Linked DNA regions of Homo sapiens. The protein of the gene in region 4 purifies or fractionates together with the protein of the main gene of each other region. This does not show direct contact. Each region holds a gene or a part of one and is shown on either strand. Other genes may lie near its edges.

Evidence for each region.
Region 1: the proteins of LSM1 (region 4) and ZMYM1 purify together in Homo sapiens (affinity purification with mass spectrometry; one large-scale study listed by BioGRID and IntAct). This does not show direct contact.
Region 2: the proteins of LSM1 (region 4) and PATL2 purify together in Homo sapiens (co-immunoprecipitation; one large-scale study listed by IntAct). This does not show direct contact.
Region 3: the proteins of LSM1 (region 4) and RAB14 purify together in Homo sapiens (affinity purification with mass spectrometry; one large-scale study listed by BioGRID and IntAct). This does not show direct contact.
Region 5: the proteins of LSM1 (region 4) and IL36B purify together in Homo sapiens (affinity purification with mass spectrometry; one large-scale study listed by BioGRID and IntAct). This does not show direct contact.
Region 6: the proteins of LSM1 (region 4) and PI4KB purify together in Homo sapiens (affinity purification with mass spectrometry; one large-scale study listed by BioGRID and IntAct). This does not show direct contact.
Region 7: the proteins of LSM1 (region 4) and NBDY purify together in Homo sapiens (co-immunoprecipitation; one study listed by IntAct). This does not show direct contact.

Annotation. Positions count from the first base shown.
Region 1 is NC_000001.11:35,103,061-35,107,126, reverse strand, and holds part of ZMYM1 (zinc finger MYM-type protein 1), read right to left. Parts: intron 2,833-4,066; coding exon 2,658-2,832; intron 2,571-2,657; coding exon 2,358-2,570; intron 1-2,357.
Region 2 is NC_000015.10:44,676,542-44,680,607, forward strand, and holds part of PATL2 (protein PAT1 homolog 2), read right to left. Parts: intron 1,323-4,066; exon of another isoform or gene 364-1,322; coding exon of another isoform or gene 325-363; exon of another isoform or gene 186-324; intron 25-185; coding exon of another isoform or gene 1-24.
Region 3 is NC_000009.12:121,191,789-121,195,854, reverse strand, and holds part of RAB14 (ras-related protein Rab-14), read left to right. Parts: intron 1-2,435; 5' UTR 2,436-2,442; coding exon 2,443-2,494; intron 2,495-3,630; coding exon 3,631-3,684; intron 3,685-4,066.
Region 4 is NC_000008.11:38,165,928-38,169,993, forward strand, and holds part of LSM1 (U6 snRNA-associated Sm-like protein LSm1), read right to left. Parts: intron 3,991-4,066; coding exon 3,875-3,990; intron 1-3,874. UniProt on the Homo sapiens protein: Plays a role in the degradation of histone mRNAs, the only eukaryotic mRNAs that are not polyadenylated. Probably also part of an LSm subunits-containing complex involved in the general process of mRNA degradation.
Region 5 is NC_000002.12:113,032,156-113,036,221, forward strand, and holds part of IL36B (interleukin-36 beta), read right to left. Parts: intron 702-4,066; exon of another isoform or gene 502-701; intron 1-501. UniProt on the Homo sapiens protein: Cytokine that binds to and signals through the IL1RL2/IL-36R receptor which in turn activates NF-kappa-B and MAPK signaling pathways in target cells linked to a pro-inflammatory response.
Region 6 is NC_000001.11:151,324,301-151,328,879, forward strand, and holds the start of PI4KB (phosphatidylinositol 4-kinase beta), read right to left. Parts: upstream 3,117-4,579; 5' UTR 2,971-3,116; intron 2,074-2,970; exon of another isoform or gene 1,880-2,073; coding exon of another isoform or gene 1,872-1,879; intron 618-1,871; exon of another isoform or gene 445-617; intron 1-444. UniProt on the Homo sapiens protein: Phosphorylates phosphatidylinositol (PI) in the first committed step in the production of the second messenger inositol-1,4,5,-trisphosphate (PIP). May regulate Golgi disintegration/reorganization during mitosis, possibly via its phosphorylation.
Region 7 is NC_000023.11:56,815,122-56,819,806, forward strand, and holds the end of NBDY (negative regulator of P-body association), read left to right. Parts: intron 1-2,198; 3' UTR 2,199-4,058; downstream 4,059-4,685. UniProt on the Homo sapiens protein: Promotes dispersal of P-body components and is likely to play a role in the mRNA decapping process.

The DNA.
Region 1 (4,066 bases), on a different chromosome or scaffold from region 4:
GTAATCCCAGCACTTTGGGAGGCCGAGGCGGGCGGATCACGAGGTCAGGAGATTGAGACCATCCTGGCTAACACGGTGAAACCCTGTCTCTACTAAAAATACAAAAAATTAGCCAGACGTGGTGGTGGGCACCTGTAGTCCCAGCTGCTCGCGAGGCTGAGATACGAGAATGGCGTGAACCCGCGAGGCGGAGCTTGCAGTGAGCTGAGATTGCGCCACTGCACTCCAGCCTGGGCGACAGAGCGAGACTCCGTCTCAAAAAACAAACAACAACAACAACAACAACAAAAAACAACCCAGAACAAGGCCTATTGAGTGTCAAAAAGAAAGAAAGAAAAAAAAAGGAATATTATTTCCTGCCTTTGGGAGAAGTCTTCTGTGCTTTCCGTTCTGGTCCCAAGGCAGGATACTCTCAAGATGGGGGCCATAGAAAAGATGTGAGTCACAAATGATCTATTTGAATTATGGCTTGTTTTGACTCCCATCTTCAACTGCTTTTTTTTTTTTTTTTTTTTTTTGAGACGGAGTCTCACTCTGTCGCCTAGGCTGGAGTGCAATGGTGCCATCTCGGCTCACTGCAACCTCCACCTCCCGGGTTCAAGAGATTTTCCTGCCTCAGCCTCCCAAGTAGTTGGGATTATAGGCGCCTGCCACCATGCCCAGCTAATTTTGGTATTCTTAGTAGAGGCGGGTTTTCGCCATGTTGGCCAGGCTGGTCTCCAACTCCTGACCTCAGGTGATCGGCCAGCCTCGGCCTCCCAAAGTGCTGGGATTATAGGCATCAGCCACTGCACCCGGCCAACTGCTTGTTTTTAAGGAAGTCTGTATAGGGATAGAGTTGGGTCTCAAAATATGATATGAACAAGCAACATATCTAAGAAGTCCCACCTCATCTCATTTGCTCTTTCTCTGCTCTCAGAAGCACCCACCCAGAGCTTGTCTATCAGAAATAGGGACAAATAATACTAATCTCACTGGATTATTTCCTCCTATGACTGACTCAGAGAAAGCATGTGATATTTTTTGTTTGTTTTTTTAAAGACAGGTTCTTGCTATGTTGCTCAGGCTGGTTCTGAACTCCTGGCTCAACTGAACCTCCCGCCTTGGTCTCCCAAAGTGCTGAGATAACAGGTGTAAGCCACCATGACTGTCCACATGTGACATTCTTGATTCATCTTTGCATTGTTTGGTGTAAGAGTTAAACACGTGGAATTAAAAACAAAAACATGGCTAGGCTCACATCTGTAATCCCAGCACCTTAGGAGACCAAGGCAGGAGGATCAGCTGAGTTCAGGAGTTGTAAGACAAGCTTGGGCAACATAGTAAGAGCTTGTCTCTACAAAAAAATTAAAAATTAGCCAGGTGTGGTGGTGTGTGCCTGTAGTTCCAGCTACTCGGGACGCTGAGGTGGGAGGATCACTTGAGCTAAGGAGGTCAAGGCTACAGTGAGCCATGATTGCCACTGCACTCCAAGCTGGCTGACAAAGACCTCGTCTCAAAAAAATCAAAATAAATAAAAAAAATAAATAGCTGGGCACAGTGGCTTACGCCTGTAATCCCAGTTCCTTGGGAGGCTGAGGCAGGAGAATTGCTTGAACCTGGGAGGCGGAGGTTGCAGTGAGCCAAGATTGTGCCACTGCACTCCAGCCTGGGCAAGACAGCGAGACTCCGTCTCAAAAAAAATAAATAAGGTCAGGTGTGGTGGTTCATGCCTGTAATCCCAGCACTTTGGGAGGCCAAGGCAGGTGGATCACGAGGTCAGGAGATTGAGACCATCCTGGCTAACACAGTGAAACCCCATCTCTACTTAAAATACAAAAAATTAGCCAGGCGTGGTGGTGGCGGGTGCTTGTAGTCCCAGCTACTTGGGAGGCCGAGGCAGGAGAATGGCATGAACCCGCGAGGCAGAACTTGCAGTGAGCCGAGATCGCGCCACCGCACTCCAGCCTGGGTGACAGAGGAAGACTCCATCTCACCAAAAAAAAAAAAAAAAAAAAAAAGAAAGAAATAAAATAAATACATAAAAATAAAAACAAAAATACTTTTGTGTTTGGGTTTTATTGACCAGCAGACTATTGTTATTTTTGCTATACTTATTTCTAGTTTATAAACCGGCTCCAGCCTGCCTGCCTTTTCTTTAAGGTGAGATAATCGATCTGAGATTATTTAGGAAAATCTCCATATAGCATTTATCATGAATTCTTATGCAAGAAGAAACCGTTAAAAGCCTTCTATTTCATCTTCATCAACTTATCGACATTATTCCAAAGGGTACCAAAAACTACTTCCCACATTTTCCTAGAGTGAAACCATTCATAGGCCAGTTAATAGAAGAAACAATAGGTCTTTATTCATACCTGCTTATATGCTGTAATACTCTTTGAACTATTAAAGTAATGAGACTGTCCTTCCATCTGAAGTATGTGGGACAGACTAGAGCTGGTGTAACAGTAAGTGCCACAGTTCTCACAGCAGTTCATGATGAAGTTGTTAGCAGAGTGAAACTTTGAAAGGCAGGCATTACTGCAAAGATTATGTTTCACATTTTGGTATTTTACTTCATACTGAATCTAGGATTTAATAAAAAGATTCAGTAAAAACTCTGATATTTAAGCAGAATCATCAGAATCCCTGTAAAGGTTATAATTGGAACTTACAATAGCAGTCTTCTGGCACATGCTGCACTTGGTCAAAATGCTATTAGTACATATGGTAACAAATGGTTTTCTTTTTTCTTCATATGATGAAAGACAAGATAGGCTGCAAAAAGTTTTGCAAGAGGTAGTGTCTTCCAGCTGGACACTAATCACATCCTTTGGATTTAAAATGTCTCTAAGAATAAATAACAAGGACATCATTAAACAGTTTAAACACAATTATAACTTCTCTTTATAAATGAAATGACCTCTCAAATTAGAGTAAGAACATTAGCCTTGAAATAAGAAAACCTGAATTTGGTACCCAGTTCTGTCACATTTATACTCCCTAAATTTTAATTTTCTCATCTATACATTACAGATTATAAAGCACATCTAATAGTGCAGTTTTGTTTTTTAAGAGATAGGGTCTTGCTGTGTTGCCCAAGCTGGCCTCAAATTCCTGGGCTCAAGAGATTCTCCCACCTCAATCTCCCACATAGCTAGGATTACAGGCACATAATCCCACCATGCCTGACTTTGAAGATGTAGTTTTGGAGACTAGCCAGCCTGTATTATTAGGTGGTGCTAGTGAAAACCGAGGGATGATGAGAGATCACATATTCACATGAGCAACTCTAGAATCTATAGGACAGAGAATCTTAAAATATGGTCTTCAAATCCCTGGGGGAGTCCCCAAGATCAAAACTATTTTCATAGTAAGATGTTATTTGCTTTTTCACCGTGTTGATGTTTGCAACATCACTTTGCAACTGATGTTGCAAAGCTAATGGTAGGACCCTGCAATCCCACTCCTTGGTAAACACCCAAAAAAACTGAAAACAGGTACTCAAACAAGCACATGTACGTGCATATTCATAACAGCACTATTCACAATGGTCAAAAGATGAAAACAGCCCAAATGTTCATCAGTAAGTGAATGAATGAATAAGCACATTGTGTTACATACATACAGTGGAATATTATTCGCCTATTAACAAAAAGAATAAAGTACTGATACATGTTACAACATGGACAAACCTTGAAAATATTATGCTAAGGGAAAGAACCAGACACAAAAAGTCACTGCACTCTAGCCTGAGCAACAGAGTAATAATACCCTGTCACAAAAAGGTCATATATGATTCCATTTACATGAGATATTCAGGATAGATAAAATCTATAGATATAATGCATACTGGTGGTTGACAGGCACTGGGGGGAGAGGGAAATTAGGAGAAACTGCTTAGTGTTTAAGGTGTTTTACTTTGAAGTGATGGAAATGTTTTGGAACAAGATAGAGGGGATGGTCACACAACATTATGAATATACTAAATGCCAATGAAATGGTTAATTTCTTGGTATACAAATTTCACTTCAATGAATTTGGAAAAGAAAAAAGGCAATGGTGGGTAAAACCGTCAGAGCCT
Region 2 (4,066 bases), on a different chromosome or scaffold from region 4:
ATTGCCAGCCTCTGGAAGGTAAACCTGAGACAAGAAAGAGGCCAAGAGGCACCATCCTCAGTCAGTAAGGATGACATGGCACCCTAAAACAGCCATGGAATCCTCCCAGCAAGATGGTTAGAGAATTCTTGGCCATGGTCTTGAGGAGAGAGACCCTGGGGTCTCAGACTGCCATAAACACCCACCCTCCCAGCTCGGCTCTAGGGAGCTGTCCCACAAAGGGACAGAAATGAGGCACAGGCTAGAAGCAGGAAGAGAAGTACTTCCCAACCGACATCACCAGTCACCGTCCGAGTGTGGTGATGCCTTGCTGCCGACACCCACCACCTGACTGTTGCTGTCCTTTCTGTTTAAGTTATTCATAGCAGCCTGGGCCAGGACCTGTTTGCCGCTCCTGGCTTTAAAAGTCCCAGCTCCTCCCCTGCTCACCCATTAAAGGGCTAGCATCCTCCATCCATTGGGGCCTGATGGAAATATGAGAACATAGTTTAATGATTAAAAAAACGCTTGAATGGAGAAAAGACATAAACTGCATTTTTAGCCATCCATGGCTTTTAGTACAGTTTATTGGGATTGATATTTGGGGGCAGATAGTTAAAAAGAGGATCCCTGTTTTCCACACCCTTCATTGGTAGTTTGTGAGGTTGCATTTAATTTAATCCCTAGGTTTTGCTTCAACAAAATTGGATAGGAAAGTCCTGGGTAGATCCTGGGGAGGATGCCTAGCAACCACATTCCTGGCGCTTCAGGGCAGCGTACTTGAAGCCCTCAAGTCCACCTGATGATGCTTGCCCTTCACCGGGTCATGTGAGCTTAAGTCAGCTACTCAGCTCTGACTGATGAGAGACCCCTGTGAATTTGGAAGTCAGATCTTCATGGTAAAAACACTTTTGCATGAGATACACAGTCTTACATCTTCTTGGCTGCTCTAATGGCAAACTGGTCCAGAAGCTCAGGAGTAAAAACAAATCAACAACAACAAAAACAAAAACATAGCTGCTCCTGGTAGGCAAAACCCAACACCCTCCCAAGTCTCATCTAACCCTCAAGCAACCCTGGGTTCTGTGCCCACATCCTGTGTTCAGCTGAAACCCACATGACTTTGTAGAACTTCTGAATAAGAATAAAAACTAAGTTAATTTCCCTACATCAAAAATGAAAGTTAGGACCCTCTTGTCATGGTGATAAGACCATGATTCTTGGTGCCTTTAAAGGAAAATATTTGTTTCAGAAGTTTTACTGCAGGTCATAACTATATGGGTGGGGGAACAAATATAAGTAGCTTGAAAGTTACTGAAAAACTTCTCATATATCTTGAGATAGCATCTTACTCTGTCACCCAGGCTTGAGTGCAGTGGCATGATCTTGGCCCACTGCAGCCTCCACCTCCCGGGTTCAAGATTCTCCTGCCTCAGCCTCCCGAGTAGCTGGGATTACAGGCGGCCACCACCATGCCCAGCTAATTTTTGTATATATATATATTTTTTTTCAGTAGAAACAGGGTTTCGCCATGTTGGCCAGGCTTGTCTCAAACTCCTGACCTCAAGTAATCCACCTGCCTTGGCCTCCCAAAGGGCTGGGATTACAAGCACAAGCCACCACACCCAGCTGGGTTCTGGCCTTTTTGGTAATGTTATTCAGCTGTTTCTCTCAGGAACTTCCTAATAACGTACTTTAGCACTATTAACAAAAGGACCACATGGTGAATTTCAGTGTTCCAGAGGTGATTCATTAGGTTGTTGTAGAGACTAGATCTTAAGGAGAAACTTGTTGCATGAAGATTTTCATTCTGAAGGGACTTCTGGTACTGACTAGTACCAAAGCAGGTGGACTAGGGCTCAGTCTTAAAGATCACAGCCCTGCCCTGGCTGTTTGGAGTTTCACTTGGGACCTACTGTTTTTTATGAAGGTCCCCTACCCTTATCTGAAGTCTCATATGTCTACTGATCCCCTAGATGTTCTAACTTTCCTGCCATCATTTCATTATGTTAAGTTCAAGCCAAGCCTATGTTAGGCTTGGGGTAAACAGTGAATAAAGCAGATGCTTCCCACAGCCTGTTAGAGCTTCTTCTAGAATAAGAAGTACACACAGGTACACAGGATTGTTGGGTCAGATTTTAAAAAGACATTAGAGTGGCTCATACCTGTAATCCCAGCACTTTGGGAAGCTGAGGCAGGAGGATAGCTTGAGCCCATGAGTTCAAGACAAGCCTGGACAACATAGTGAGACCCCATCTCTATTAAAAATTTTTTCTTAAAGAAAAAAAATGACATTAGAAATATTTACATTTGCTACATAAAACACTCTTTTATGGGGAGATTTTTTATCCATTGTTTCAGGTTCTTTAATAGCAGTAGATCTAGTCTGGCTTTCAATTTCTTCTTGAGTTTTAAGTTATATATCTTCTAGGAATTTGTCCATTACTTATAAATTTTCAAATTTGTTGGCATAAAGTTGTTCATAGTATAAGTGTATTTAAAAATCCATGCTATAACTGTACTTTGTCTCTCCTGCCCCCTTTCATTTACTTGTTTATTTTGAGACAGAGTCTTGCCTGTCACTCAGGCTGGAGTGCATTGGCACGATCTCAACTCACTGCAACCTCCACCTCCTGTGTTCAAGCAATTCTCCTGCCTCAGCCTCCAGAGTAGCTGAGAATACAGGTGCACACCACCATGCCTGGCCAATTAATTTTTTTTTTTTTTTGAGACAGAGTCTTGCTCTGTCAGCCAGGCTGGAGTGCAGTGGCACCATCTCGGCTCACTGCAACCTCTGCCTCCTGGGATCAAGCAATTGTCCTGCCTCAGCCTCCTGAATAGCTGGGATTACAGGGGTGTGCCATGCCCGGCTAATTTTTGTATTTTTAGTATAGAAGGGGTTTCACCATGTTGGCCAGTCTGGTCTTGAACTCCTGACCTCAGCTAATCCACTTACCTCGGCCTCCCAAAGTGCTGGGATTACAGGCGTGAGCCACCGTGCCTGGCCAATTTTTTTTTTCTTTTTCTTTTTCTTTTTTTTTTTTTTTTTTTTAGTAGAGATAGGCTTTTGCCATGTTGGCCAGGCTGGTCTCAAACTCCTGGCTTCAAGTGATCCACCTGCCTCGGCCTCCAGAGTGCTAGGATTACAGGCGTGAGCCACTGCGTCCGGCCCTTTGTCTCCCTTTTTATTCCTAATATTATTCATCTCCTCCTTTGTTCTTCTTTCTAGAGTTTGTCTATTTTATTAGTCTTTTTAAAGAACCATGTATGTCAGGTTTCCTTCAGGAAATAGATGGTGTATTCAAACTGGATAATCTAATAAAGTTATATTTATAAAAGTATAGAAAGAGTATAGTGAAACCACAAGTAATAGCAGAATCCCCTGGGACTGGGACAAGAGGATGGAGCAGTCACCAGAACCTGGAGACAGAGAGGGCTGCCTGGCTTCAGATAATGTCAGCATCTGTGCTGTATGAGTTCCAGTGTGGCAGCCCTCTCCTAAATTACCCCAATTCCCTCTGGATCTGGGATCTGCTCCCTCCTCTTGCCCCTGAGGTCTGGGGGTGGGAAAGGCTCCCCACTCTTGCTAGTTCCAGGGTGCTTCACTGGCCTTTATGAGTTTCCCTTCACCCTGTTCACACCTTGGTGAATATTCTCTTCCTGACATGCTCCTCAGTTACACCACTTGAATGTGCCATCTGCTTCTTGTCGGGACCATGACTGACACTGCTCCATCACCAGCCTGCTGAGCTGTTCTTTAATTTGTCCTTGTTTAGCTGCCTTTCCCATACATCCCTCATCAGTGATTCTAAAAAATAGGCATTGTCCTCCTCCAGTCTTCCATACAACTCCCATCTCTACTCTCAGCAGTCAACCTCACCTCTTATGTTATGGGGAAAATAGAGGCCATTGGGGCTGATCCACTTCAATTCATACTTGGAGGAAATTATACACAGCCACAGGCCCCCCACCTTGCACTTCCAGGTGGGGGGCTCTCCTCCTCTTCAAGTCCAGACTCTCTTCCTGGATGCTTGGCCCTTCAGCCACTTTTCTCTGTGTCTTGAGCCTCTCTGTTTTCCCCTTTCTT
Region 3 (4,066 bases), on a different chromosome or scaffold from region 4:
AGACAGTATCTTCTTAGAATAAGAAAGGGAAGACCTGTTGTGAGTGTTGGTGGCTACAGTGTTAAATGTTTTCTGCCTTTGTTTACTGAAATTAGTAAGTTTGAGTAGTTTTCCTTTAATTCTGCTTTTATGGTTTTTATTTGTAATTTTTAAAGAAACGAGCAAGAAAAATGTGTGGTGTGGTGAGACAGAGCCCTGGTATTAAATCCGAAATAGTGATCATTTCTTTTATTTGGAAATAGTTTCTACTATATGAATGTTTGTAATTTTAAGATACATTTTCAAAATTAGTTATCTCACATTTAATGAATGTATGATAATTAGCAGGTACACAAATTAGTACAACTAAAATTGGGTCACAATTTTATGATAGTCTTTAAAGCATTTGAAGTAGAAATTTGGGATTGTTAGAAGTCATAGCTTTAACATAAAATAGAAGGAGCAAAGTATGTACAGCTACAACCTTTAGTTAGAAGAGGGAAAGAAATTAGGAAAATCAAGGGAGAAGAGCACAGAAGAGACAGTAATTTGAAGGTGACTAAGTGATTACTTTTACCCAGGTTTGAATGGGGAAAGAATTTAGAAGAATTAAAAATTGATTAGAAGAGTCGGAAGAATTCAAGTTAAGAAGTTAATAATCTTTAAATATTTTTAATGTAAGAGATTACTTTTCCCCCTTGTGTTTGGCATCTGGTTCAGAGATCAGGTAAATAATCCAGACCAGTTTTAGTCTCAGGACCAAGTTCATTCTTAAAAGTTTTGAGTTCCTAGTGCCTGGAAAAGGGAATAAAGTTGTTGTGATGTTCAGAATCAGTTAATCTAACTAGAAAAACTCCCTTTCCTGAAAGAACTGGTTAAGGGAGTTTTCTGTGATGCAGGAGACTGATTATAAATGTGTTAGAACATGCCAAACTGGAATGGGTAACAAGGCTTCTACTTTCACTAAATGTAATACAGATAGCTAAGTGAGAAGACTGTAGTGTGTGGAAGTGATTAATACTTTACTGTAATTAACAACTTCCTCTTCCCTTATAATAATACACTTGTTTTAAATATATATTCTTTCTACGGGTTCAATGTTGTTATATAGAACTTTTGCTTGAAATATGGTATATAGTAAGGTGATAATTTCAGTAAATAAATTTCTCCAGTCATATTAAATGTCTGGCTTGTGTAATGTGACATTGACAGAAACACTAAAAGCCAGGCTTAAAAATACTGTAAGTCAGATTTTTTTAAATGGGTGAAATCTTTATATGTATAAATAATTTTTGTCTTAAGCTGAAAGCTGGTTTGAGAATAAACTTTATTGAAAGTTATTACCAGTTTTACAGTTCAGCCCCTTGTTTCTCTCTAGGACCTAGCACGTGTCTTACACATTCAGATAATTCATTTGAATAAATTGGAAAGTTTTTTGTTTTCTTTTTAAGTAGAAGAGAAATTAGAATTCTTTAGGTTAAGTCTATTTGAGGGTAAGAAATGGGCTGTGATCTTTTGAAATATCTTCTAATACACAAGCTTTCAAATTTTGCAACCATAAGTACAATTTTATGACATTATTTCTTTCAGTCCCTAGAATAGTGTATGGGAAGCACTTACTATGTTGTTAATCTGGCTGGGCACAGTGGCTCATGCCTGTAATCCTAGCACTTTGGGAGACTGAGATGGGAGGGACGCTTAAGGCCAGGAGTTCAAGACCCAAGACCAGCCTGGTCTTCAAAAAATGTGTGTGTGTGTGTGTGTGTGTGTGTGTGTGTGTGAGTGATAATCTGCAAGTCCTGTATTAGGTTGAGCTATATGAAAATGCCAATAAACTTTGACTTGAAAAATCTATAGGAAGAACAGTTTCATGTGATTCAGTCTAGTTCCAACATTGATTTGGAAATCATACGATTGCTCTTTGCGCTGCTAACTGTTGATTTAAAGTAGAGTAAAAACGTTGTTTTGTGTTTATAAATTAAGTGGTTCCTTTATATACCATTCTGTTTAATATCAGAGTTCTGAACAAGTAGATCATTAGTAACTTACTTGATCAGTTAACAGGGAAGGGGACTTTAAGGGGAGAAGAGACTATAGTGATGTTTAACTTAAATTTATAAAGATTTTTTTGTTTGACAATTTTCAGATTAATACTTATTGGATTTTTTTTAAATTATACTTTTAAGTTCTAGTGGATATTAAGTGAAATATTGGAGTTGTGGTATAAATGGTTTCTTATATTTCTGTGGATAGCACATGAGAATGTGTAAGCATCATTCATCCAAGAGAATTTGTGTATTTGATCAGTTTGTGAAATGCAGTTTTATTTTGACTTACTGTAACCAACATTTGTTTGTATTCAGTGTCCTTTTCTACCTTTAAAGGATATCAGTCATCCGTTTGAATTACTTGTATATGCTTTCCTTCTGAAGTAACAGAGATTTCTTTGTTTTTAGTGCCACCATGGCAACTGCACCATACAACTACTCTTACATCTTTAAATATATTATTATTGGTAAGTTTATTTAACTTACACTCTTGTTCCCAAAAGAAGGTTAACATACAAAATATTTATATGTTAATACTTAAACAGTACCACTTCAGGACTGAGTGATTTTCTTACTGTAAAACTAAAACTCCTTTTATAAGATTTATTTTTGCATTAGCAATGCAGCTTTTGCATTGTGGCCATGGATATTTCTGTGGTACAGTGCTGGTGGGTACCTTGTGAAGTGATGTTCATTGTTCTTGAGGGCTGCTTGAAAGCTTTTTGATGCTAGGAAGTATCAGTGTTTCAAGGAGTGCAGAAACATTCCTAAAATACTGTGAAAGCTCTCAGATTCCCCTGGGTTTCTGTTATAAGGAAAAATTGGTAGAGAATATTGTTTGATTCCAAATCAATTGTGTAATATATATAAAATATAGTATTTTTCTTAATTGGTGTTTTTTTCCTTAAGTTTCAAGAAGGTTTTGCTCAAATTAAGTCTTAATGCTATTTATCCAAACATAAAACTACATTTGAAAGTACACGTTTTTCAATGAATTGTTCACATTAGAACAGTTTGCTTTCATGTTGAACTTAATGTGTCCTTTCTAATGTTTCCTTCATCAAGGGTTAACATTGCTATAGTACAGTCAGAGATGACATCTTTTCTCCTGGGGTTTTCATGTAATGCAAATTCTTTTCTTTCATAGAATAATACAAGAAGTATAAGACAGGGACCTAGTGAATCAAGCTTCCAGAACTCAGTTTGTTATTTCTGCTTGTTACATGCTACCCCATTTGTCAGTTTTTGAAATTTGTTGCTTTTATGCATGAGTTTAAGGAAAAAAACAAAAGAAAACAAAAACATAAAATTTTGAAACAGCTCAAAGTAAAAAAAATTCCATTAAAAAAATAAGCACTTCCCAGCTGGTGGCTATTTATTAACAGTAATAATTTACAGCCAAATTCTGTCACTGCTAAAGATTGGGAATAATATTCCATTTGTGTCTCACAGTGAAAACTTTTGAATCATTATAAAGTAGGAAAATAAAAATTTGTTAAGTGTCCCAGAAACTTGTGATATGTTATATGGTAAGGAATATAGCGATCATTGCATAAAATTGAGAAATGTAATTGCCACCTGAAACTTCTTTTTTTTTAAACAGGGGACATGGGAGTAGGAAAATCTTGCTTGCTTCATCAATTTACAGAAAAAAAATGTAAGTTCAATACATGAGGTAAACATTAATAGTTTTCTTTATCGCCATGTTTCTACTTTTTAGAAAGTGTCATTTTCAGTATACTTCATGCATTTAAATATAACCTTTCCCTATATTTGTACTTTTTTTAAATGGGTACAGATAAAATGAAATATGCCAGCATATTTTAGGGTTGATTTTTATACACATTATATAATCTGATTTGCTTGTTTTGATTTCTTGATGTTAAAATAATTTTTAAAAATACATAAAATAATGTCAAACTTAATCTTTTTATTCTCTGACTTTCTGTTACAGGAATTGATTGTCTTATTAGGAGAAATTTGCTGCATGTATCATTTGTTAAATAACAGATTTGAAATACTTAAAATGGAATTCTTTC
Region 4 (4,066 bases):
TCGTTTTTTCACTTAAATGTGGCATAGTATGCTTAATATTTTTATTTTTGAATGTTTTATAAACATTTTTCATTAATTATTTTTAAAGATATAGAAGACTTCATGAATTTGCGTGTCATCCTTAAGCAGGGGCCGTGCTAATCTTCTCTGTGTTGTTCCAATTTTAGTAGATGTGCTGCCAATGTGAGCACATTTTTCATTTTTTTAGAGACAGGATCTTGCTCTGTTGCCCAGGGTGGAGTGCAGTGGCACAATCACAGCTCACCATGATCTGAAACTCTTGGGCTGAAGTGATCCTCCTGCCTCAGCCTCCTAAGTAGCTGGAACTACAGGCATGTGCCACCACATCTGGCATTAAATCTTTTTTCTTTTTGTAGAGATGGGGTCTTGCTATGTTGCCCAGGCTGGTCTCAAACTTCTGGCCTCAAGCATCCTCTTGCCTTGGCCTCCCAAAGTGTGAGCCACTGTGCCTGGCCCTTATAAACATTTGCTAACCAATGTCATAATGCAGAAGAACCTTGCTAAAAAAGTATCTCACTGTCCATAGATTCAGTTTATTGTCCTTAAAATGAATGTACAGGTATTATTTGGTGTTTTTGTAAGATGGAAAGCCTATACAAAGTATTCCTGTTTCTTACCCTCCTCTATGACTTTCAATGATAAAAGTTTGGGACGGTACTGACACACTTCTCCAGATGCTCTGCCCTGCATACTATTACCACATGCTGCCAAGGTCTCAGAACTCACAGGCAGTGGCATTATCAGTCAGAGAGGACTCTCACCACAGAAGTTACAATGAAAGCCACACAAATTACATAAGCAAGCCCTGCTCTAGGTCCAAAGTTAACAGCACCCAGCAAAGTATATATTACCACCTGCCCTCCCAACCCATGAGTAGCAGCTAAAGAGAGCACAGTGTTCTCGGCCTAATGCACTGCCTCTTGGGCTTTTCAGTATGTGACTTGCTAAGCAATTCATGCTGCTGTTGCTGCTTCTTCCCAACAGTCTTATTACTTAATGCTGTGTCATCATCATCGTCCTTGAGGCAGAATTCAGGGATTTCTTAACCAATATAGTGTTTACAGAAACTGATTTCTATGTATGAATTCCTCTGGGGTTGGTACATAATTTCTCCTGATTGCTGATTCACATAACAATGCAGGCATTCCTGGAACCAAGTTTCTGTAGTGGTACCCCTGTAAAACTTCTGCAGCATCCAAACCATAACATATTTTTTTAAAAAAGGGAACTTTTCCTCACAAAAGGGATCCAAGGAAACAATTAAACTTCAAGAACAAACACGTTCACCTCTTTCTCTGCACAAACACACACATCTACTTAGATGTAACTTTGTGCCAATGTAACCAGTATAAAAAGCATGTCTGCTATGTTTACTACTATAAAACAGAAGCATATCTGTGAATATTTTCTTGAGAAAGGGTCTTGCTCTGTTACCCAGGTTGGAGTGCAGTGGTACAATCATGGCTCACTGTAGCCTCGACCTCCCTGAGCTCAGGTGAATCTCCCACCTCAGCCTCCCAAGTAGCTGGGACTGGTGATGTGCACCATCACCCCTGGCTAATTTTTGTATTTTTTTGTAAAGACAGGGTTTGGCCATGTTGCCCAGGCTGGTCTCTTGCAGCTTAAGCGATCTGCCTGCCTCGGCCTCCCAAAGTACTGGGATTACAGACGTGAGCCACTGCACCCACCCCAGTATTTTAACTTAAGTTTTTTCCTCTGATACGTTGCCTCTTCAAAATTAAATTCAGAAAAGTATTTTTAAAAATCATCTATAACCCCACCATGCAGAGATGGGTCAGCTCCCCTATATACTGGCAGTATCAAGCACAGTGGCATGTACCTATAGTCCCGGCTACTTGGGAGGCTGAGACAGGAGGATTGCCTAAGCCTAGGAGTTTGAATCTAGCCTGGGCAACATAGTGAGACCCCATCTCTGGAAGAAAAAAAATACTGGCAGACTACTTTACAGTCATGTAGTGTCTCCCCATGGGTACCATGGTACTAGGTGCTTTCAGACTTTTTTTTTTTTTTGAGACGGAATCTTGCTCTGTCGCCCAGGCTGGAGTGCACTGGCACGATCTCGACTCACTGCAAGCTCCGCCTCCTGGGTTCATGCCATTCTCCTACCTCAGCCTCCCAAGTAGCTGGGACTACAGGCGCCCGCCACCACACCCGGCTAACTTTTTTGTATTTTAATAGGGATGGGGTTTCACTGTGTTAGCCAGGATGGTCTCGATCTCCTGACCTTGTGATCCGCCCGCCTCAGCCTCCCGAAGTGCTGGGATTACAGGCGTGAGGCACCGCACCTGGCCTTGTTTCAGCCTTTATGCGACACAAGAAGATAACAATTTCTGCTGCTTGGCTGGGCGCGGTGGCTCATGCCTGTAATCCCAGCACACTGGGAGGCCGAGGCGGGTAGATCGCCTGAGGTCAGGAGTTCGAGACCAGCCTGGCCAACATAGTGAAACCCCGTCTCTACTAAAAATACAAAAATTAGCTGGGCTTGGTTGCGGGCACCTGTAATCCCAGCTACTCGGGAGGCTGAGGCAGGAGAATCACTTGAACCTGGGAGGCGGAAGTTGCAGTGAGCTGAGATCATGCCATTGCACTCCAGCCTGGGCAACAGGAGCAAAACTCTGTCCCAAAAAAAAAAAAAAACCCAAAAAACAAAAAACAATTTCTGCTGCTTAAACATGCAAGAAATGATACACTGAACTAAAAGTACAAACTACAAAAATATTTTATAAGAAAAATTTTTATAAGTATTACTTATAAATATTTTATAAGTAAGAAAAAGCTATTTCATATATTTCACAGCATATATTTCATATATTCATATATTTCATATACTTCATATATTTCACTTGGGCAGTATTGATAGTCTGGATTAGTCATTTCTAGCTATTTCCAATATGAGGTCTCTGAACCAACCCAACCCTAGCAGAATTATCTCCTTGCTTTCTCAAATGGCTGTTAAAAATGGCTACAAACCAAACCACTCTAAAGATTTCTGCAAACTGATTTAAGACATGGCTAGGTATTTAGAAAACAGTATTAAAAACTTTAAAAATTAAGCAAACACCAAAGTTTTTGGTAAGAAAAAAGAAGACAGTGCTGGCTCAACCCTTAATTTCAACTACTCTTGAAGAGATTTTTATTTTCCTTGCAAACCCAATAATCAGAAATAACAAGATGAAATCAAAGGTTTTAAATAAGATACTTTAAAAAAAAATCTGAGTACTTCTAGTAGGGGTGTGTGTGTGTATGTCTGCACACACGAAGACCTACAGCAACAATACCTCAGAAAATCTGATTTAACCTTTCACCTGCCAGCTGGTCTTTCTGGCACAGATACCAAAATACCCTCTCCCTGGCTGTGAGCTAAGGATCCAAGTAAGACTGAACTCCATTCTCGGGATAGGTAACGGAAAAGCTTTTCCTATAGCTACTCTTTCCCTTTCCCCCTTTACTAATATGGATATCACATTGTACTGTACAGGCAATATGTACTTCCCTGAAATACTGTGCATTAGCTTTATGCCATGAAAAACCACTTGTAACCAATTGTTTAAATGACTGCAAAATATTCCAACGTATGTAAGACACACCTTCCCCAGCATATATAAATCAAGCTTTGTCAATTTTCTGCTATTAAACAAATATATTAATGAACACATTTGTTAAGGCACTGAAACAAAGTATTCTCTGTAGCTTCCCTAAATTAATTTGGTAGTTGCCTAGGAGAAGCCAGATAAATGTGGAGAATATTTTTATTCTCTTTTGAAAAGACAAAAAAAGAAGTCTAACTAGCATGAATATGAAGATCTACAGCAGCTTAATAGTTTTCACTTACTATTTCTCCTAGTAGGACCACATTTTCTCCTCTGACCACAAAAATCCCTCGAGGAATATCACCGTATTTTTTGCCCACATGAATACGCTCCACAGTCTGATGTAGCACTAAGTTTGCTGTAAGTGTATAGGGAAAAACCAAAGATATTTAGTTTAAACTACTGGGTAAAGGCCCATAACTCAATAATCAGTT
Region 5 (4,066 bases), on a different chromosome or scaffold from region 4:
TGTGTGTGTGTGTGTATCTCCATTTTAGCCCTCCACACAGCAGGTTAATCACCACTTTTCCTGACTTGAAGCTGAACACTCCTAAGTAATTTGTAGCTAACCTGCCTCACTGAGCCCATCTTCTTCCATTCCTCATCCAAAGAGACATCTGTAAGGATCATGCACATGGCCACTGAGGGCCCCACAAGGTGCTTTGACTATTAGGGATCATCTGCCTCTGGTTTTCTAGTTAGGGCACCAGAACAGTCCCCAAGAATATCACAGACACTCCACAATGAGAACCAGTTGTTCACAACCCTCCTTCTCTCAGGATCCTTGATGTGTGATTCAATAGTTGTCCCTACACAGTGGATAAGCAGATCACCAACCTGCACCCTTGTAAGCAGCCCTGGATCCTTCAGTACTCTGTACCTTTGACAAGACTCCCAGAGGCACTTCGAGGCTAAACACAGAGACATGAAAGAAGTTCCCCATACCTGGGTTCTAAGCAGCAGAAGTTACCTTTAGCAAGAGATGCTTTTGTCCCTCGTTTCAAAGTCAAGGCTCTAGTTGCATGTAAGTGGTCTAGCTGCATGAAAAGCTGGTCCAGGACTCCCAGGCCCCTTAATGACCAAGGAAAGAGCATTCTTTCCTGCCCCTGGGTGTGTTCATTTTGGAAAGAAAGCTGATATGGCCCAAAGATCTCTTGAGGCTCTGGAGGACTGACAGTGGAGCAACACAAGCATGACTGGTCTGTGCTTCCTGATTAACAAGAGCAGAGGCAACATCAGAAAACAGCAATGAGGAAATGCGGATTAGGCCAGATGCTGAGTTGAGGAGAGTGCCTTTACTGGTCTTCCTTGGAGGCAGAGGTGTGTCTCCCTTGGAGGCAGAGGTGTGGCTCTCTTGACCCACTAAACTGCATGAAGCCATTGCTGTGTTTGCATCTGATGTTAGGCCAATCACAGTACTCCTTGCAGGAGTTTTACACACCCACCATGTCACATTTATATGGTACAAATATTGAGAGCTTATTCTGTTTCTGCTAAAGTTGTAAGAGCTTTACCTGAGTAACCTTTTAATCTTCACGCTACATTTACTTTTTTTTTGGAGATGGAGTCTCGCTCTCGCTCTGTCGCCAAGCTGGAGTGCAGTGGCACGATCTCGGCTCATGGAAACTTCCGCCTCTCAGGTTCAAGTGATTCTCCTGCCTCAGCCTCCCGAGTAGCTGGAACTACAGGCACCCACTGCCACACTGGGCTAGTTTTTTGTATTTTATATTTCAGTAGAGAAGGGGTTTCACTGTGTTGCCCAGGCTGGTCTCAAACTCCTGAGCTCAGGCAGTCCACCCGCCTCGGCCTCCCAAAGTACTAGGATTACAGGCGTGAGCCACTGCACCCGTCCCACACACAACTCTTTAGGGGCCATTAATTTTATTTCTCATGTAAGAAAACAGCGGCTCTGAGGGATGACAGAATGTACCCAAAGTCATACAGCTACTAAGAAATCTAGCCAAGTTAGAAGCCAAGTCTCTCTATTCTTAATGATTATGTGACATGCCTCCCCTGGGTCATAGTCTCCTGCATACTGCACTAGCCGGAACACAGTCTTGCATTCAGTTGAGGATACTGAAAAATCTATAATGTGTCCAGGAGAGGAGAGGAGAGAACTTGGAGGTCTTGTGGCTTTCTAACTCTGAATTAGGAGTCAGACGCGGCTTCAATGTTGGCTATGAAAGAAAATCATTACTCTTGAAACCGAATATTATTGGTCAGTCCTACTCCCAATCACTCTTTGTGGTTCTGCTCTTGGAAATCCACCATTGACTCTATCTTCTGGAGCATTGCAATAGTCTCCTTGCTTCTGTTCTTACCTCCCTAGAGTCAGATGTCCACCTAGCAGTGACCAGAATCAAAGATGTAAATAAAGTCGTATGACTCTCTTGCACAGAACCCTCTAATAGCTTTGCTTTATGCCCCAAATAACCAAAGCCCTCACCAAGCCCACATGATCTGGGTCCTCTTTATCTTTCTGCTGCCTTCTATCCCTGCCCATCTGACTTCCCTGCTCTGGATGTACTGGATTCTGCTGATTTTCTTGCCCTGCAAGCTTATCTTCGCCTGCAGGGAGTTTTTCCTGTTCCTCTGAAGGAACAGCCTTCCCCAGGTCAACAAGTGGTCCACTCCCTCGCTTCTTCCATGCATATGCAAAAAAGCCAACTTCTCAATAAGGTATTCCCCAGCCAGCCTATCTCCAAGAGTCCCTCACCCATGTCCTAGCCCCTTATTTTGCTCAACTATTTTCTTCATAAAATGTATGCTTCCATGGTTTTGGAAAATGTATTTATCCATCTATTTATTTATTTATTATCTCCACTACCAAAATGCCAGTTCTGTGGGGCCAGGGAACCTGTTTTGTCTTGAGGCCAGAGAACTATGTGCTCAGTGGCAGGAATGGTGCGGACCTCTTATGGGAACTAACAAATATTTTTTGATAAACAAATAAATGTATGTAGTATCTCATGAATAAGAGGAAGACAGGGAAGAGAAAAGGGGAGTGGGATGCTTTGTAGGAAAGGCATCACTTGTGGTGAGAGGTGAGTTCTTGACCTCCTCATGGAGAAGGGCCAGGGGATGCTCTCCTATCGCCAGGATGGAGCCTCCCAAGAGAATCACTCAAACAGTCAGTGGGACTGGCAGCTTTGCCCCCATCTGGATGACTGGCACACCTAGAGACCCACAGGCTCACCTTGGCTCCTTGGCCAGGGCAGTGTGTGGTGAGGGAGTTCAGGGAGACCCTGATGTGATTTTACTGAAGTGTGGTGTACTCTAGAGATACAGACAAGGCTCTAACCTTCCCAGCACCAGCAGAGCCTAAAGAAACTATGGGGTCACATTCCTTGGAAGAACTTGGCAGAAACTCCCACCCCAACTCAGAACTTTTAGACATTTAAAGTGTGGAAGACTGAAGGCTCTCATGACTCCATGCAAAGAAGCCAGTGGTTGGCAGAAGGGTTGGAACCATGAGATTTTCCCCAAGGGATCAATGGGTCAAGTGATAGGATGTCCAACCATGAAAAGAATTTGAATCTGGGATCTATTCAGGTCCTGAGAGTGCTTAATGATGAAGACAGACAGGGTGACACTGATGGTCAGTCACCCTGTCCAAGAAACTACACACACGGTGTACTGAAATAAAATGAAATCAGACTGTACCAGAAACTGTGGGAACCCCTCCCTCTGCAAACCCAAAGCCAGTGCTGCAAGAACTCTGCCTTTCCTGTGCTTTTTCTTGGCCCCTAACATCTCAGCACTGGTAGGGGTACATGATCCATTCGCCTATGCCCACCATCTTGAGAAGCTCTTCTGAAAAAAAAAATAATAATAGCAACAAGAAAGTTGTGAAGTTTGGCAGGGATGTTGTTAGAGGACCTGATATCCAGTGAGAAAAAAAGCAAGTGAATATAGCAACATCGAAAGTAGAAATTAAAGAAGAAGAAAAGGAAAAAACAAAAATATTTTGATGTTTATACCTAGATGACTTGATGGTAAATAAATGGGTGAGATAAATAAATGAGTTAGAAACAGAAATAGATTAAGAAGAAGGCAATCCCAAGAGTCATGGAATAATGGCTTCACCCAGGGAGGAGGTGTGAAGATTCCCAGGATGAAGCTGTGTCTCTGACATAGACAATGCCTTTCCTGACTGATCAGAGGATTGAGATAAAAGAAGGGAAGTGGTTGCCTCAGGAGAGTAGGATTTGGTGGGGAAGAAATGGTCAGGGCTCTGTTGTTGGTAATTTTGCACTTTTCGATTCTTTTGTTTTTTTCTTTTCTTTTGCTCTGTCGCCCAGGCTGGAATGCAGTGGCGCGATCTTGGCTCACTGAAACCTCCGCCCCACCCGGGTTCAAGAAATTCTCCTGCCTCAGCCTCCCAAGTAGCTGGAGTTACAGGCATGCACCACCACACCTGGCTAATTTTTGTATTTTTTTTGTAGAGATGAGTTTTGCCATGTTGGCCAGCCTGGTCTTGAATTCCTGACCTCAAATGATCTGCCTGCCTCTGCCTCCCAAAGTGCTGGAATTCA
Region 6 (4,579 bases), on a different chromosome or scaffold from region 4:
CTCCATATCATCTTTGACTGCCTGTTCTGCTGTTGAGGAGTTCCTCCTCATGTCTTAATGTCTAACTCAAACCTTTCTTTAAGGATGTCTCAACTCATCTCTCCCCTTTGACCTCAATGGTAAAGGTAGAGATTGAGTACTCCTTTTTCCTTATAGAAACTCAGGGCCAGGCAGTCAAGCCAGCTCCAGCCCTACCAGGATCCAGGTAACTGCTGACACAAGGGCCCAGAGAGTGTGGGCATTAGGGGAGAGGGCATTCTCAAGCTACTAGCACGAGGGTAGGGAGGGCAGTGGTCTCATGGTAGTTAAGTCAATATTGATTCAGGCTGAGAACTCTGTGCAGAGCCATGGAGCTGGTATAAGCAGATTCCAGCCAGACAGCCCAAGCCAGCTATGGGAGCCGCTACTGAAACAGATGGCAAAGAAAGCAGCCTGTGCACTCACCTCTCTCTGAATTGTTCCTCCCTACTGCGAGTCCCAAATACACTTGGACTGGGTCCCCTCTTGTCCCATGCCAATTATTGAAGGGTTCCTCCCAAACCTCTTCCCCAAATCAAGGAATCTCAATTTGCTGCTTTGGATGGTGTTCAGCATTCTCATGGAGCGTGGACTCAACTCTAAGAAGAAAGCAGGGAAATGAGAGGAAATATGATTTCTGGTTGGGGATGCTTCCAAGGAGGAAAGCTGCTTTTTTTTTTTTTTTTTTCCTGAGACAGAGTTTCACTCAGTCACCCAGGCTGGAGTGCAGTGGCGTGATCTCGGCTCACTGCAACCTTCGCCTCCTGGGTTCAAGTAATTCTCCTGCTTCAGCCTCCGGAGTAGCTGGGATTACAGAAGCTCGCCACCATGCCCGGCTAATTTTTTGTATTTTTAGTAGAGATGGGGTTTCACCATGTTGGCCGGACTGGTCTTGAACTCCTGACCTCGGGTGATCTGCCTGCCTCGGCCTCCCAAAATGCTGGGATTACAGGTGTGAGCCACCGCGCCTGGCAGGAAAGCTTCTAATAAGGGGAATTATGAGGAGACTGCACCATGACTAACGACAAGGAAGAGAAAGGAAGTGGGATAAGATGACATAACTACTCCCAAACAGACCTAGAATCAGAAAATGAATGGAATCTCACGTGCCCTTTCGCTATCACAGGCTGAGAGAGACATGGCAGCAACTAGTTGCCTAAGTCTCAGTTCACTCCAAGTTCTCTTTTCCAGCCAGCTTCCTCAAAGTGCTTTCCCACAAACATACTTTCTACCTATAGAATCTGGAGTTATGGATCAAGTACGTGAGGAACAGGACAGAAAATCAGCCACTTAATGCACTGGGGGAAAAAGCAAAGCAGATGAAGGAAGCAGGCCTGGAGCTTGTCTTTCAAAATGACTTACACCCCTGGTTGTGGACTAGAAACATCTGACAGAAAGACCAAGGTGAAGGAAAATTCTCAGGATGACTAAACCACTACTAATAAATACCTTTTGCCTGAGGAACCCAAAATGTTTTGTAAACAAATAAACCAAATCTGATTTTTTCCCCCAACCCACATCCTGCTACCAACTTATTACTGCACTGATGCCTACAGAGAGTGGGCATTTTCCAAAAGGATCACTCTAGAGGTCAAGTGAGGAAGTCACATGCTGAACCCAGGAGTCCCGATTCTGAATGTACAAGCTCTTTCCATTGTCTCATGTTCCTTTTTCCAGTTATACCCTTACCCCACTCCAGGCCTGAATTCTTATGGAACCAACCAAAACTATTCTAGTAAACCACAAGAATAAACTGATTCCTCATGGATCTGGACAGGGGTGAGAAGGCACTCTATTCTGTGATTCCTTTAACAAAAGCCTAAAATTAAATAATCTGAAACAAGTTTTCTCACAATCTCATTCAATTTCCACGCAGGCCTGTTCATCCCTCTTAGTGGCTGCTCCGGAGTAGTCAACCAAGTGTAATCTGATAGGGACTTCTTCAAAACTTGCTCCGGCCTTCAGAAACACCCTTCTGTCCTGAACGGCCTGAGGCAGCTGAGGCTCCCCCTGCTCACAACACATTTTTCTTCTTAGTTCAAGGTTTAGTTGATCCTGAAATAAGTGGTATGTGGAGATAAAGAGTGTAACAGAGAACACATGAAGCCCACGGGAAAAACAGAACAAATGTCACAAGGATCAGAGAAATCCCTGAAACTCGAGGGAGGTGTCAAAGTTGGAAATCCTGAATGGGAAGGGCACTGTCAAATCTCTCCCCTACAGACAGAAACCTCTAGAAAGTTGGGGGATTGAGGAGGGAGAAAGAGAAGCTAAAGAAAGTTATAGGGATCATAATGCATCCCAGAGAAGAGTGAGGACTAGGTTCAAAGTAAGAATGTAAATGGTACTTTTGGATTGATGACAAGGGCCCGAGATCCCTTAAGGAGAAGGGAACAGGCAATTCTTGGAAGCCAGGAGCTGGCTGGGTAGGTGGGTGACAGTGAGGTAATGGAATCAGAAGCAGCACAGGAAGACAGGGATGCAATCTTTAGCTCAGGGAAATGGGAACCCAGTGCTGGAGTTGCACAGGGACATAGGAGGAAAAGTGCAAACTAGGAAAAGAGATAAAGGTGGAGTCCATGGAAAAGGTTTGGGGCAGGGGCAGAGACGACGAGGAAGGACAAGGATGGGCATTATGGGAGTCGTCTGATATGGAAAGGGTTCATGACTTAAAAAAAAGAATTATTCGAGACGTAGGCAACAGGGATGAGTGAGGGAGGGGGGAATCCCCGAGGCAGAGGGAGGAGCTAATAGAAGAGGAAGCCAAAAAGCGGAGGAGGACCCCAGGCCTGAGAGGAAAGGGTGGAGAAGGAACCCGGGGTGCAGCTGACACCAAGAGGGCAGTTTCGTAGTCGAACTCAGGTGGGGAAGACTGTGCGGGACAGGGTGGGAGAGGGACCCCCCCCCCCACCCAACAGGGCAAAGGTGACTCATGAAGGAGGAGTAGCTTACCTCTGGGGGACCCCCGCGGAGGGGGTGCGGGCAGTCGCGGTTGGACTGCCGACACTGCCGCCTCAGCAGCAGCGACCGCTCCCGGGTTCCATTGGCCGCCTGCGCTTCCCTGACAGCGGCCGCGGAGGCTGCACCAGGCCCCGGCTGCGGGGCTGCCCGCGGCGCCGCCTGAGGGGGCCTTCAGGCTGCCACAAGTTCGACCGGGCCACACAACCTCTTCTTCCTCCCTCAGTACAACCAAGACCAAAAAAATAATAAAATAAAATAAAATTCCCCAGCAGGTCTCGATGTAGTATTCTTCTCCGGAGTCCAAGCCAAGCCTTTCTTCCCAGGATACGCTTTCCTGCTTCCCCAGCGGTCAGGACCCTACCGATTCCATAGTAATCTAAGGAGTCGGGTGAGCTGCCTGGAACATGCCTGTTCAGAAATAGAAAAGGGGGCGGGGAAAAGATGTTTGGAAGCTCTCGAGGGAGAGAGGGCGAAGGGAGGAGCTTACGGGTGGGAGGAGGGGCCAATATTTAAGAAGCGGACCTAAGCGATAGCGTTTGCGAGGCTAAAGAAGCCGAGAGAGAAGTAAAATTTGCTGCATAAGTAGGGTGAGCAGGCGGCCGTGGGTGCCCTGTTAAAGAAGTATGGACATATGCATACTTCCAGAAGTATATTAACATGCAAGTTATATGTAAACGACCGTTTGAGTAACTAACCAAATTACCGTAATTGCAATCAATGACTTTTCCCCCTCCCGTATGCTACAAGACTCCCTTAGTAAATCAGGCCGTGGGATGGACGCTGGGTTCCTAGAAGGGCGCGCAGGAAGACGGCGGACGGGGAAGACGTTCTTTCTGACTGCCCTTTTCCTACTTATCTTGGAGGACGATGCGGAGTTTAAGCTCCTTAACATTTCGGGAATGGCGCGGTCCAACCGCGTCAGTCTTTTCGCCGTTAGAGGCCCGACTCGAGGCCGTGGTTCTGCCTCCGAGGTCACCAACCTGCCTGGGCAGCCTGTGACCTCCAGCATCCATATGCCCAGCCCTCCAGGGAGGGGCTGGACAGGGCCAGGTTGGGAGAGGTGAGTGAAACGACAAAGGCTTGGAGGGCACAATCCCTTCTTCCAAACAAAACGAAACCATATTAGGCCAAACAAATAAACAAAAACACGCCATGCAAATGGGCCTCTGGTGTTGCTTTTGTGTATTTTTCGTTTGTTTGTTTGTTTTGTAAAGACAGGGTCTTGCTATGTTGCCCAAGCTTGTCTCGAACTGTTAGCCTCAAGCAATCTGCCGGCCTCAGGTACCAAAGTGCTGGGATTATAGGCCCGACCTCGCCCAGCAAGTTTTTTGTGTATTTTTCGGTTAAGATTGTTGATTTAGAGCCCTCTTTGTCCTCAGAACCTCTATCTCAATGCCTTTCCTAGGGCTTTACTTAATATGCAATGCCCCTCATTAGTGCCTTACTTAATACATTGAGGCTAGTTATTTGAGCCCGGGTCTTGAATGCCATCTTCCCTGCCACTTACAAGCCGTTTGATTTGGAATAACTAATGTAACCTCTTTAAACCTCAGTTTCTATGTCTACAAAGAAGACATATGGATGAAGTAATATTAGCCCA
Region 7 (4,685 bases), on a different chromosome or scaffold from region 4:
GAAAATTTGAAAGCCATCAATAAATTATTTACTCTTTGATAATGAAAATATTTTAATAAAAATGCTAAAAACACTTAATTTTAAACCAAAATACAGTATAGTATCTGGTAAAGAGATTTAAACCTATGTTGCAAAGATGATTAAAATGATTCATACGCAATGACCCTTTATAGAGATTCATTTAAATTAAAATTTATTTTTCTACATCAAAATGAGGAGATCATCATGACTAAGAAATTTTGGATTACTAAATTCTTAAAAAATTGTCCACTTTTAAAATTCTATTAAGGTACAATAAATCAAACATATACTATGTTTTCTTTATCATTTATAGAAATTTAAAGTATGATAACAGGTATTTCTTGTTGAGGTGATTAGCTTGTCTCTCATACATTGGTGTTTGGAGAATTGTTTACTGAAACATTTGAAATGGTAATCCACAAATTGTTTAACTTTTTTATTATACCATCTGAGAATATGTTTGCATATTTGTGAAAACAATTGGAAACTGTCTCAGTTATGTTCATTTTGAGAATTACTATGTTTTGGTGGACACATTTGCTGGAATTTTGTGCAGATATTTTTAAAATATTTAAGTTTATGTGGTTACTATGAGATATTATTAAATAAATAAAACATGTTCGGAGTAATGTGTATAATACAAACTCATTTTTTGTAACAACAAACAGAAAGAGTTACATGTTGGTAAGTATATGTGTCTTTGATTGGTTATGGAAAAAATTATTAGGCATTTATTCCATACTTTTAACATCTTTTAACCTCCACAGATTTAGAATTGTTTTTCTGGAAGAAATTGTTAATCTTCTCTTTTATACATTTCATGTTGTTTTCCTCATTTTAATGCCTTCGTATTATATTTCTAAATATAATTTTCTTTTATAAAACATGCAAATTTTATACGAAGAAAAACAGCATAAGTAAACTTAAAGACTATTTATATACAATGTGGTTCCATTTAAAAGATAGATAATGGATGCCATTAATTCATAGAATATATAATACATTTCTTTATGTTAATACAGAAACAAAGCCTGATAGAAATATAGTCAAAGAACAGGCAATTCATAGGAGACAAAAATATATGGCCAATAATAATAATAAATATAGTTGACTTTAATATTAGGTCATCATATTTGCCACAATCAAAAAAGTCTCCAGAATTCTCAGTTTTAGAAAGGATTTGGTTAAATATCTACTGTCTATAAAATTGTACGTTTCTAAAGTATTTTATCTCTATCGTAATTTTAATGTTTGTAAGTTTTGACTTGTGTTTTATTTGTAGAATATATGGAAATAATTCTACATATCAATAAATTGGCTTGCTTGTAGTAAAAATGTTGCAAGCATATTAAATATCTTTCAACAGAATTTGAACATCTTTCAACAGTTAAAATTATACTGTAACACGATGCAATATTTTGAAGCCATTGAAATATTGAGACTGATCTATTTTTATATTAAAAATTATTAAGACATTTATAAGTGAATAAAAACAAATTGCCGAAGTGTATGCTAGGATGATCTAATTTATATTATAAACTCCAAATCTAAATTATTATATTATTATAAATACTATATATGTGTACATTTAAATAGAAATAAAAAGGTCTAGACAGAATTGATAACTATGTTTTCTTCTGTAAATAGGAGAAAGACTGAGGAATGGTAAAAGTTTAGCAGTAAGAAGAATTATGTCTATGTTGTTTGAATTATATACAGTTAGATTGTATTCATGTATTTATTCATGTATTATTTGTGTAAATAAATAAATAAATATAAAATTTCCAAGGAATATAGGAGTTTGTCAAGGGGCTATGAGGGAACAATGAGGCTGATTGATTAGTTTTGGAAGCCTAATAAAACAAGAGTAATAGCGGTAGACATCCCTGTACTTTTTGGGGGAGAAATATGCCTAAGATAATAGAAACATCTGGTCCACCTAACAGATAAATTATTTTGCATTCAAATACATTAGATACCAAAAAGATGCAGGTTATTGACATTGTATGCCTTTGATTTAATATTTATTAAGCACTCATCTAATAATTTTGCATTCTCTTTAACTTGCTTAATAGGGAAATTGGGGTGTTTTCTGCTCAACAGACATATCTGACCTGTATGATAATGGAATTTCTCATTATAAGTCAATAAACTTTTGTTCTTTCTGTATCTTTCAGTCTTATGATGTAATCAGCGCGATTTCACTTCCTGAATTTCGATGAATTCTAAGACATGGGCAAGATCGGGTTGTAAGACCTCTGAGATTTAAGGCCATGCCCTGGATCATGGTGAACTTACCAAAGCAAACAATGCCTGTGAGATGGTCCTGCAGCAGCCAACCAGTGAACTCTTTTGGTGACATCCTGTTCTTGTTGTATAACTTTATATTCCTATAAATCCATTAAGGCCCCAATAAAGTTTGTCTCTAAGCGCTGTGTTAGATCTATATGACTACATCTAGTAAATTGTGAATTTTAAGTAAATATTTTATAAGAACTCCTATGTAAAGCATTACTAAAATTAGTGTTGAAATATGACCTTCTTCCTACATTTATTCATTTATTTATGTCTATTTATTCATTTATTTTAGTGAAAAATATAAGGAAAGTAGAGGAAGGTTAAATCCAAAAAAGAATTGTTTCCAGTACACTTTCTTTAATTTGCTGTCAGTTTTTGCATGGAATCTACATCTTTTTATGCTAATCCTCATCCTAGTATTTTACATCTTAACTATTTTTTTCTGACTGAAATGGTTGATGTGCTTGTTTTTTGTAATTTTCTACTTTCCTTCTAAAATGCTTAGTATTGAACAAATAGAATATCCTAATTAAAAACAGTAATAAATATTATGGTGAAAAAATACAAGTAAAATGGGAAAACATTAGATAGCAGCTTTCAATATTTCATATAGTTCATAAATGTTTCAGGAATTACAAGGTTATAGAAAAAAATTTATAGACTATAATAATTTCCAGGGATATAAAAAAATAAAGCTTCTACCTTTGAATTGTAATAATAAAAGATAAACAGACTTGAAAGCATATATTATATCTGAAAATGTCAGATAAACTTGGCTTATAAATTAAAATATAAAATAATAATACAATTTGTTCAAATAAGTAATTAAAGCTTACATTGTAAAATGAATATTTAGAGAGATTGTGAAACCTGAGTATTTTACCCAATCCTCTGAAATTAGTCCCTAGCATCAGAATTAAAGAATCTGAAAAATCACAAATGGAGGTATGGTGACATTTATGTATATTCTAGAGTTATGTTATGCACACTTAATAAATTATAGACAGTTATTTTAAAGATTGTATAATATTACTAATCACACATTAGAGTTTTAAAACTTCTGAGCCAGGCTGAACATCACAAACAGTAAACACAGACTTCTTTAAAAGGACATCTGGTGAAAGGCATTTTATGCATCAGAAGGCACAGTATTATAAAGATGACAACACTCTTCAAAATAATCAAACTATTCAATGCAACCCTTATCAAAATTAAGGTTGCCTACTTTGAAGAAATTTATAACCTGATTCTAAAGTTCATATGAAAATGTAATGGACCCAGAATAGCCAAAACAATCTTGAAGTATACAAAGTTTGAAGAGTCACATTTCCAAATTTTAAAACTTATTACAAAGCTACAATAAACAAGTCTATGTGGTACTGGCATAGGATATAAATATTGATCAATGAAATAGAATCCAAAGTCCAGACATAAGCCCTCACAAAAGTTAATTTGCAGCCAATTAACTTCTGAGAAGGAGGCAAGACAAAAGGGGAAATAACTATTTTCAATAAATGGTACTGGGACAACTTGGTATCTACATGCAAAAAAAAAACAAAAAAACAAAAAACTTCCACCCCTACCTCATGCAAAATACAAAAATTAACTCAAAATAGGCCAAAGACTCAAATATAAGGGTTACACTATAAAACTCTTGGGAGGAAATATAGAATAAATTTTTGTGACCTTGAATTAAGTATTAGATTTTTAATTCTTACACCAAAGCACAAGTTAATAAAGGAAAAAAAAGATAAACTGGACATAATTAAAATTGAAAAAAAATTTGCTTCAGTGAACACAGTCAAGAAATTTGAAAGACAGCCACAGTGCAAGATTATTTTTGCAAATAATATGTCTCATAAATGACTTGTATCTAAAATATATAAGACCAGGCATGGTGGCTCATCCTGTAATCCCAGCACTTTGGGAGGCTGAGGCAGGGGGATCACTTGAGGTCAGGAGTTTGACACCAGCCTGGCCAACATGATGAAACCCCATCTTTACTAAAAATACACACACAAAAAAAATTAGCAGGGTGTGGTGGTGTATGCCTGTAATCTTAGCTACTCAGGAGGCTGAGGTGGGAGGATAGCTTGAACCTGGGAGGCAGAGGTTGCAGTGAGCCAAAATTGCACCAATGCACACTCCAGCCTAAGCAACAGGGCAAGACGCCATCTCAAAAAATAAAACAAAATAATAAAATAAAATAAACAGTAATTACCGCTAAATAATAAAACAAACAATAAACCAATTTTATAACGAAAGGATCTGAATAGATTCTTCTGTAAAGAAGACATACAAATCACAAATTACACATGAGAAGATGCTCAACACTATTAGTCATCAGGGAAATGCAAATCAAAATC